Linked DNA regions of Homo sapiens. Changing the gene in region 1 together with any one later gene gives a genetic interaction. Each region holds a gene or a part of one and is shown in the gene's direction. Other genes may lie near its edges. The genes, in order: YTHDC1 and NUP85.

Region 1 (3,821 bases):
ATGTATTTCAGATTTCTGTAAATTCTTAGATTTTCATACCAGTCAGCAGTTTATTTAAACACTGATGTACTTGAAGTATATTCATAGGAAACCTGTCCACTGGGTATTACAGTATTTCCTTGGTAAAATACCCCTAGATTTCCATCATATGGCTTCAGAATCAAAACAGATTATTTCTTTTTTATCTCTGGGAGCACAGACTTTTCTTCTAATTTTGTGTCTGTCAGTTGACTGGCTGAGACAGGGTCGACAAGAGGGCTGGGGTGTAAGGTATAAGATGGAGATGAAGACTATAAATAAAATTCTTGTGGAAAAATCAGGTAAGAACCATCTTCAGTCATTTCTTCAATGCTATATATATCCTGCCTCTCTATACCTATGAGACAAAAATGTATGACTGTTACGTAGTTGGAGGCACTAGGCTTAGGGGAACTTTTCTTGGGGGAGGGTACAGCAAGGAGAGGTCAGGGTACTTACAGAGCACTATATGATGATTATAATCTCATGACTGTCTTATGTAAAGATGCTACCAGATTGCTACATAAGCAAAATGTACTAAACATAAGAAAATTCCTATTTTTTTGAAATACATTTACAGTTTATTATAGAATTTGATCATTTATAATAGTACATTGTTTTATATATATAGTATATATAGTATAGAAAAGTACTTCAGTTGCCAATCACTAGAAGATAACTGGCCATCTGCTCTACCTATACTATATACAGATAGTATATATCTATACTATATATTTTATACTATATATTTATACTATATGGATAGTATATATCTATACTACATACAGTATAGGTAGAGCAGATGGCCAGTTATTTTCTAGTGATTGGCAACTGAAGTGCTTTCAACCTTTTGTTCACTAGAATTCTAGGTTTGGGAGTTAAGATAGGCTTTTCAAGGGAGGTAGAGTTAAACAGAATAGATGAGTAGTTGGATTTGTTGTAAAAACATATGAAATCTTTATGCTTCCATCATGCCTTTTACAAACTGATAGGATATATTTTTTATAATTTAAGATAATAAATATTTCATTAGCAGTATGTGTTGAATGTTCATTTATTGTGGAGAATGTATGAAACCACTCCCTTGGGTAGGGAACGTTTTGTTGTAGGAATCTTCTTTTTGGTATCTCTGTTATTTCTTAGACTTTAATGTTTGTATTGTTTACATTAAACAAAGGGAACTTACTTAAATGGGTAGGACCAGAAATTGCATTTGTAACAGGCTCCTAGATGATACCATAGTAAGGTAACTTGATTGACACACTTTGTTTTTGTGGAGAAGACATTTCAAATTAAATGGTAACTGTAGTTTTATAATAAATCTTGATATCAAAACTCTGTTACTAGACTAGGTTTATTCTAAAAGAGATACCTGAAAGTTTTATTTTCCTTATAAAGGAAAATCCCTTATGTGGAACATGCTTTAGGTACTATATTAATATGCAGGAAATTTTTTTTTATACAATAGTTTATGAAAGAGTAATGGGGTGATTTTGGAACTTCTTGATTAAGAGACGTCAGTTTTTAAATAAAAGTGATCACAGTTGAGTTTCTCTGTCATGAATTTTCTAGATTCCAGTTCATTTTACCTTATTCTCAGAATTTTTGGTAACTTTATAAAAGCAACAGACTGATTGATAACAGTTTATTTATTAGATGATTTTCATTGTTCTTTTGACCTGAGAGTAATAGTTGGGGGAGAGGGCCATAAACTTAAGAGCATTGGGAGTTATTCATACAAAAATGATGAAAATTCCTTGGAGATTTCTCATGCTAATGCTAGGTTTAGCATTATATAAAAACAATTGAGTAGGATCTTCTGCTTCTGTTATTTTCCCTGCATTATCTCAGATCTTTTTAGTAACTTTTTAATTATTGTTTTTGTCTTTATATAAAGAGGGTCTTGCTATGTTGCCCAGGCTGGTCTCGAACTCCTGAGGTCAAGTGATCCGCCTGCCTCGACCTCCCAAAGTGCTGGGATTACAGGCACGAGCAACTGCACCAGGCCCTTTTTAGTACTTTGGACCATGAAATAATTCTTTTTTAACAGCAACAAGAGATAAATTACACTCAGTCAGATGCATTCATAATGCTTAGACTACTGAAAGAAATATCCATGGGGGAAAAATTAGAAGAAACATGTCAGAACTTTTGAAAGAAATAATGAAAAAAGCCCCCAAAACTAGTTAAACCTGTAATCACCTTTCAAAAATAGTATAAAACATCCTTTCTACTTGCTCAAGCCAGAGGACCTGCCCTTGAGTCTAGGTTCTGCCATCCAGGAACTGTGGGACCCTAGTCTAGTTGCCTAACTGCCTGTCTAATTCAAGGTTTCTTCATCTGTAATGAGAATATCTTGTGAACTTGTTATGAGAATTAAAGGAGATAAGTAGTTAAAGCTTTTTAAATAGCTGTCATTATATAGTAGGTTATTGTATACATGATCACTGATTATTATTTTTCAGCTTTCCATTGTTTATATAAAAATAAGTATATGCATTTTTTTCTTCCTATTCCCTTATCTCTAAGCTGAAAAGTAAAAGGAGCTTATCATGGTAAAACTAAGATAAAAATAAACAGATAGGAGAGCTGAATTCCATTTCAAGTCCTCATGTATATGCTTACAAAGTTCCAAATTAAGCTTGGGACTGGTTCTTACATGGCAGGTAATCCAAACCTTTTCTATTTACTGAAGATTTTCAGCTCTCTTACAGAAATACACAGGCTACCATTAAAATTGTAGGGATAAATTTTAAATTGAATTTGAAAATAAGAGCAGTAATCCAGGGAGGAAATGGCTAAGGAGAATGAAATAGAAGACACAAAAACAAGCAATGGCAACCAGAAGGGAATCACTAATTATGGTATATATATTTTTCCAGTTGTAAAGCTTTGGGTTCAGGGGTTCATCAGATCTCTTAAGATAGAATCAGAATTGTAATTGTGCTGAAGAATGGTAGTGGAGTTTAAAAAAATAAGGACTTAAGACAGTGTTACCTGGTGTGTAGAAAGGACACAGTTTTGAAAGAAATTGTTTTTGCTTTGCAAATTTCCCCCCCCGCTTGGAAAACTGTATTCAAGGCCACCTATATATGGCAATTAAGGCCCTGACTTTGTAGTTATTTCGTGTGTTTTTATTTGATTGAAACTGATGAAAGAAACAAGATGCCCGTACTTTTTAAACAGTATTTTTAAAATAAAACATTCTGAGGAAATTGAGGGATCAGGAGAGAGGAGCACAGACTAATAGAAGGGCTATGCAAAAACTAGACATGTAATGATACATTCTTGTTTGATTACTTCTCTTCGTTTCTGTATTGTGATTTAAAAAAAAAACTCTTGTTCTTTTTAGATGAGAAAAAGAAGGAAAGGAAGAGAGCTAGAGGCATATCTCCAATTGTTTTTGATAGAAGTGGAAGCTCTGCATCAGAGTCATATGCAGGTATTCTCATTTTGTGATCATATCTGACTTGATTCTAATGTAATCTGCTTTAGAAAGCGTGTGGAGGCTGTAGTTTAGTGTGAACTTGTTGATGTCCATTAGCACTGATTTTTGGCATGTTCAGTGTAATAATTCTAGAGAAAACTAAGCTTTTTCTTATTATTTTAATCCTGTTCTGTTACTGCTTAAGTGGAATTTTCACTTTTTTTTTCTTGGAAGATGATGATTCAGTGACTAGTTTTCTGAGTGGGAAACTGTTCAAATATACATACTTTTAAAAAAATCCAAACAACCCAAAAAGCAAAACACTCGTACACATTGAGAAGTTTTTTTTGTGTGTGTGGGTGCGCCAGGAAGAATA
Region 2 (3,611 bases), on another chromosome or scaffold:
GTGGGTGCCGCTAGTGTTGGCTTCCCAGGGACTGGGTGGTTGAGGTGGGCCTGAGACTGCTGCTCTGATCTCTGGGCCGGGCCCTGCAGGTTCCTCAGGGATTACTGTGAGCGAGGCTGCTTTTCTGATTTGGATCTCATTGACAACCTGGGGCCAGCCATGATGCTCAGTGACCGACTGACATTCCTGGGTGAGTCTCTGGGTTTTGTGCCCTGTGCTTTGGGCACAAGTGGGTAGTTGGGGAGGTTGGAGGGATCACGTCAGACTTCTCCCAGCGCTTCCTTCATGTATTCCCATTGCATCAGTGGTCCCAGAAACATCCTCCGTCATGTCCAGGATCATGAGTTTGGCTGTCACATCTCCTTAGTGCCTCCATGTTTGTTTGTTTGTTTGTTTGTTTTTCTTTCTTTCTCTCTTTCTTTCTCTTTCTCTTTCTCTTTCTTTCTTTCTTCTTTTCTTTTATTTTTTCTTTTTTTTTTTTTTTGAGACAGAATCTTACTCGCTCTGTGGCCCAGGCTGCCAGGCTCACTGCAACCTCCACCTCCTGACTTCAAGCAATTCTCGTGCCTCAGCCTCCCAAGTAGCTGGGATTACAGGCACGCGGAACCACACCTGGCTAATTTTTGTATTTTATTTATTTATTTTTTGGGGACAGAGTCTCACTCTGTCACCCGGGCTGGAGTGCAGTGGCGTGATCTCGGCTCACTGCAACCCCCGCCTCCCGGGTCCAAGCAATTCTCCTGCCTCAGCCTCCCAAGTAGCTGGGACTACAGGCGCACGCCACCACACCCAGCTAATTTTTTGTATTTTTAGTAGAGATGGGGTTTCACCGTGTTAGCCAGGATGGTCTTGATCTCCTGACCTTGTGATCCGCCTGCCTCGGCCTCCCAAAGTGCTGGGATTACAGGCGTGAGCCACTGCGCCCCGCCTAATTTTTGTATTTTTAGTAGAGATGGGGTTTCACCATGTTGGTCAGGCTGGTCTGGAACTCCTGACCTCAAGTGATCCGCCCGCCTCGGCCTCCCAAAGTGCTGGGATTACAGGTGTGAGCTACTGTGCCTGGCCAGTGCCTCCATGTTTCTTCTTTTTTTTTTTTTTTTTGAGACGGAGTCTCACTCTGTCGCCCACGCTGGAGTGCAGTGGTACAATCTTGGCTCACTGCAACCTCCACCTCCCGGGTTCAAGCCATTCTTCCTCCTCAGCCTCCTGAGTAGCTGGGACTACAGGTGCATGCCACCATACCCGGCTAATTTTTGTATTTTTAGTAGAAATGGGGTTTCACCATGTTGGCCAGGTTGGTCTCAAACTCCTGACCTCAGGTGATCCACCTGACTCGGCCTCCCAAAGTGCTGGGGTTACAGGCATAGGCATGAGCCACCACGCCTGGCCTAGTCAATCTCTTTTAATCCATGACTCTTGTTATGTATTTTGACTCTGATGTTTCCCCAGATTTGGCTCTTCGGAGTTCTTCCAAGTCTGTTTTGAATGCTCTTGGTCTGCATCTCATTGGGACCTATGAGTTTGGAGACAGAAAAAAATCTCCTGCTTTGTGGAGTGGCTGGTCTGAGGTTTTTCTTCTCCTGTTTAGGGCCAGGGTGACTTTTGTAGGTGTCACTTGGGCAATTTGGGGGAATATGCAGGTTACTCAGTGCTCTTGTTTCGCCATAGGAAAGTATCGCGAGTTCCACCGTATGTACGGGGAGAAGCGTTTTGCCGACGCAGCTTCTCTCCTTCTGTCCTTGATGACGTCTCGGATTGCCCCTCGGTCTTTCTGGATGACTCTGCTGACAGACGCCTTGCCCCTTTTGGAACAGAAACAGGTGAAGGTTGCAGCAGCAGTGGTTTTCTTTGCTTGTCAGTCCCTGCTAGAGCTTAGTTGTATAGCTGTTGCCGATGTGCGTGTTTCCTCCTTTGTCGTTCTGCCTGTGCGCGTGTATTCCCCTTAGCGCCCTCTCTGGGATTCCAGACTCACACAGGAAACAAACACTGCTTGATTTGAAATGAGGTATTCGTATACAAAGCACACTATTGCGAAGGGTATGAAAGGAAGAACGTCCGAACATGGGCCCCTGCCCCAACCAATGCAGGCCAGGGCTGGGGGCAGCCAAGCAAGGCAGGCTCTCTTCCCTAGGTGATTTTCTCAGCAGAACAGACTTATGAGTTGATGCGGTGTCTGGAGGACTTGACGTCAAGAAGACCTGTGCATGGAGAATCTGATACCGAGCAGCTCCAGGTCATTTTCACTTTTGGGTTGATGGTTCCACATGGAGGTGGGAAAAGGCTCCCTCTATCTCAGGCTTCCCCTTCCCTCCAGAAACACTGGCTCCTATGGACACATGTGCCTCTGTTCCCCTTAACCTGTGTAATTCACACACCACCTTCTTTTAGGAGAAAATCAGGGATTCTAGTGTTCTCATCTCTACATTTTGTTCTTTGCTGTTCATCATTTCCAGTATGGCCCTTTGGTATTGCTTTCTTTTACATCGATAATTTGCTGGAAGCTACTATGAATGTTAAGTGCCCTCTACCTTTGGATTAGCTAGACCCTTCGGGAGTGTGAAAGGGCTCCTTCCTGCTCTTAGCTCATGCTGGCGCTCTCTGCTTTGCAGGATGATGACATAGAGACCACCAAGGTGGAAATGCTGAGACTTTCTCTGGCACGAAATCTTGCTCGGGCAATTATAAGAGAAGGCTCACTGGAAGGTTCCTGAGAACTGCTTCAATGTGGTATCTTTGTATGGCAATGTATATAGATTTTTTTAAAAGAATAAATGTTGTTTTGCAAATGTAGGTTCTTAGAGTCCACCCAGGGAATTTTTTATCTGTCTAGTCTGAACCTGAGGTGGTAAGAGATTAAAAAATGCTTGTTTTATGTTCTTTTTTTTTTGAGACGGAGTCTTGCACTGTTGCCTGGCCTGGAGTGCAATGGCACGATCTCAGCTCACTGCAACCTCCGCCTCCAGGGTTCACGTGATTCTCCTGCCTCAGCCTCCCAAGTAGCTGGGATTATAAGTGCACACCATACCCAGCTAATTTTTTTGTATTTTTAGTAGAGATGGGGTTTCACTGTGTTGGCCAGACTGATCTCAAACTCCTGACCTTGTGATCTGCCCGCCTTGGCCTCTCACAGTGCTGGGATTACAGGCGTGAACCACCACACCCGGCCTTGTTTTATGTTCTGATACGCAACTGTCTTCCTGTGCCTCCTTAGATAAGAAATCACCCCCCAGGTCGGGTGCAGTGGCTCACGTCCTGTAATCCCAGCACTTTGGGAGGATCCCTCAACCCCAGGAGTTTGAGACCAACCTGGGCAACATAGGGAGACTCCATCTCTGTTTAAAAAAAAAAAAAAAAAAAACCCCAAAGTTGTGGTGACTGCAGTGTCTTGGAAGTCTGAACAAGAACGCTTGGTGGTATACTTGTGCTTCTGAAATCTTGCCTCACCTCTTCTGGAACACTTAACATTTTGGTTATTTAGTTCCCTTAAAATATAAGCGTACAGGAACCCGCACTTTTAACAAAAACCTTGGGCAGTTCTATCATAGGCTGTCCTCATGTATATCTAGAATTCATAGGTGGTACCTTTTCCTCCATCAGGGTGAATGGCGTCT

Evidence for each region.
Region 2: changes in YTHDC1 (region 1) and NUP85 together harm fitness more than expected from each alone (negative genetic interaction), as found in Homo sapiens cells (one large-scale study listed by BioGRID).

What each region holds. Positions count from the first base shown.
Region 1 is NC_000004.12:68,332,947-68,336,767, reverse strand, and holds part of YTHDC1 (YTH domain-containing protein 1), read left to right. Parts: intron 1-3,370; coding exon 3,371-3,460; intron 3,461-3,821. UniProt on the Homo sapiens protein: Regulator of alternative splicing that specifically recognizes and binds N6-methyladenosine (m6A)-containing RNAs.
Region 2 is NC_000017.11:75,232,969-75,236,579, forward strand, and holds the end of NUP85 (nuclear pore complex protein Nup85), read left to right. Parts: intron 1-89; coding exon 90-190; intron 191-1,668; coding exon 1,669-1,820; intron 1,821-2,131; coding exon 2,132-2,233; exon of another isoform or gene 2,234-2,234; intron 2,235-2,609; coding exon 2,610-2,711; 3' UTR 2,712-2,790; downstream 2,791-3,611. UniProt on the Homo sapiens protein: Essential component of the nuclear pore complex (NPC) that seems to be required for NPC assembly and maintenance. As part of the NPC Nup107-160 subcomplex plays a role in RNA export and in tethering NUP96/Nup98 and NUP153 to the nucleus.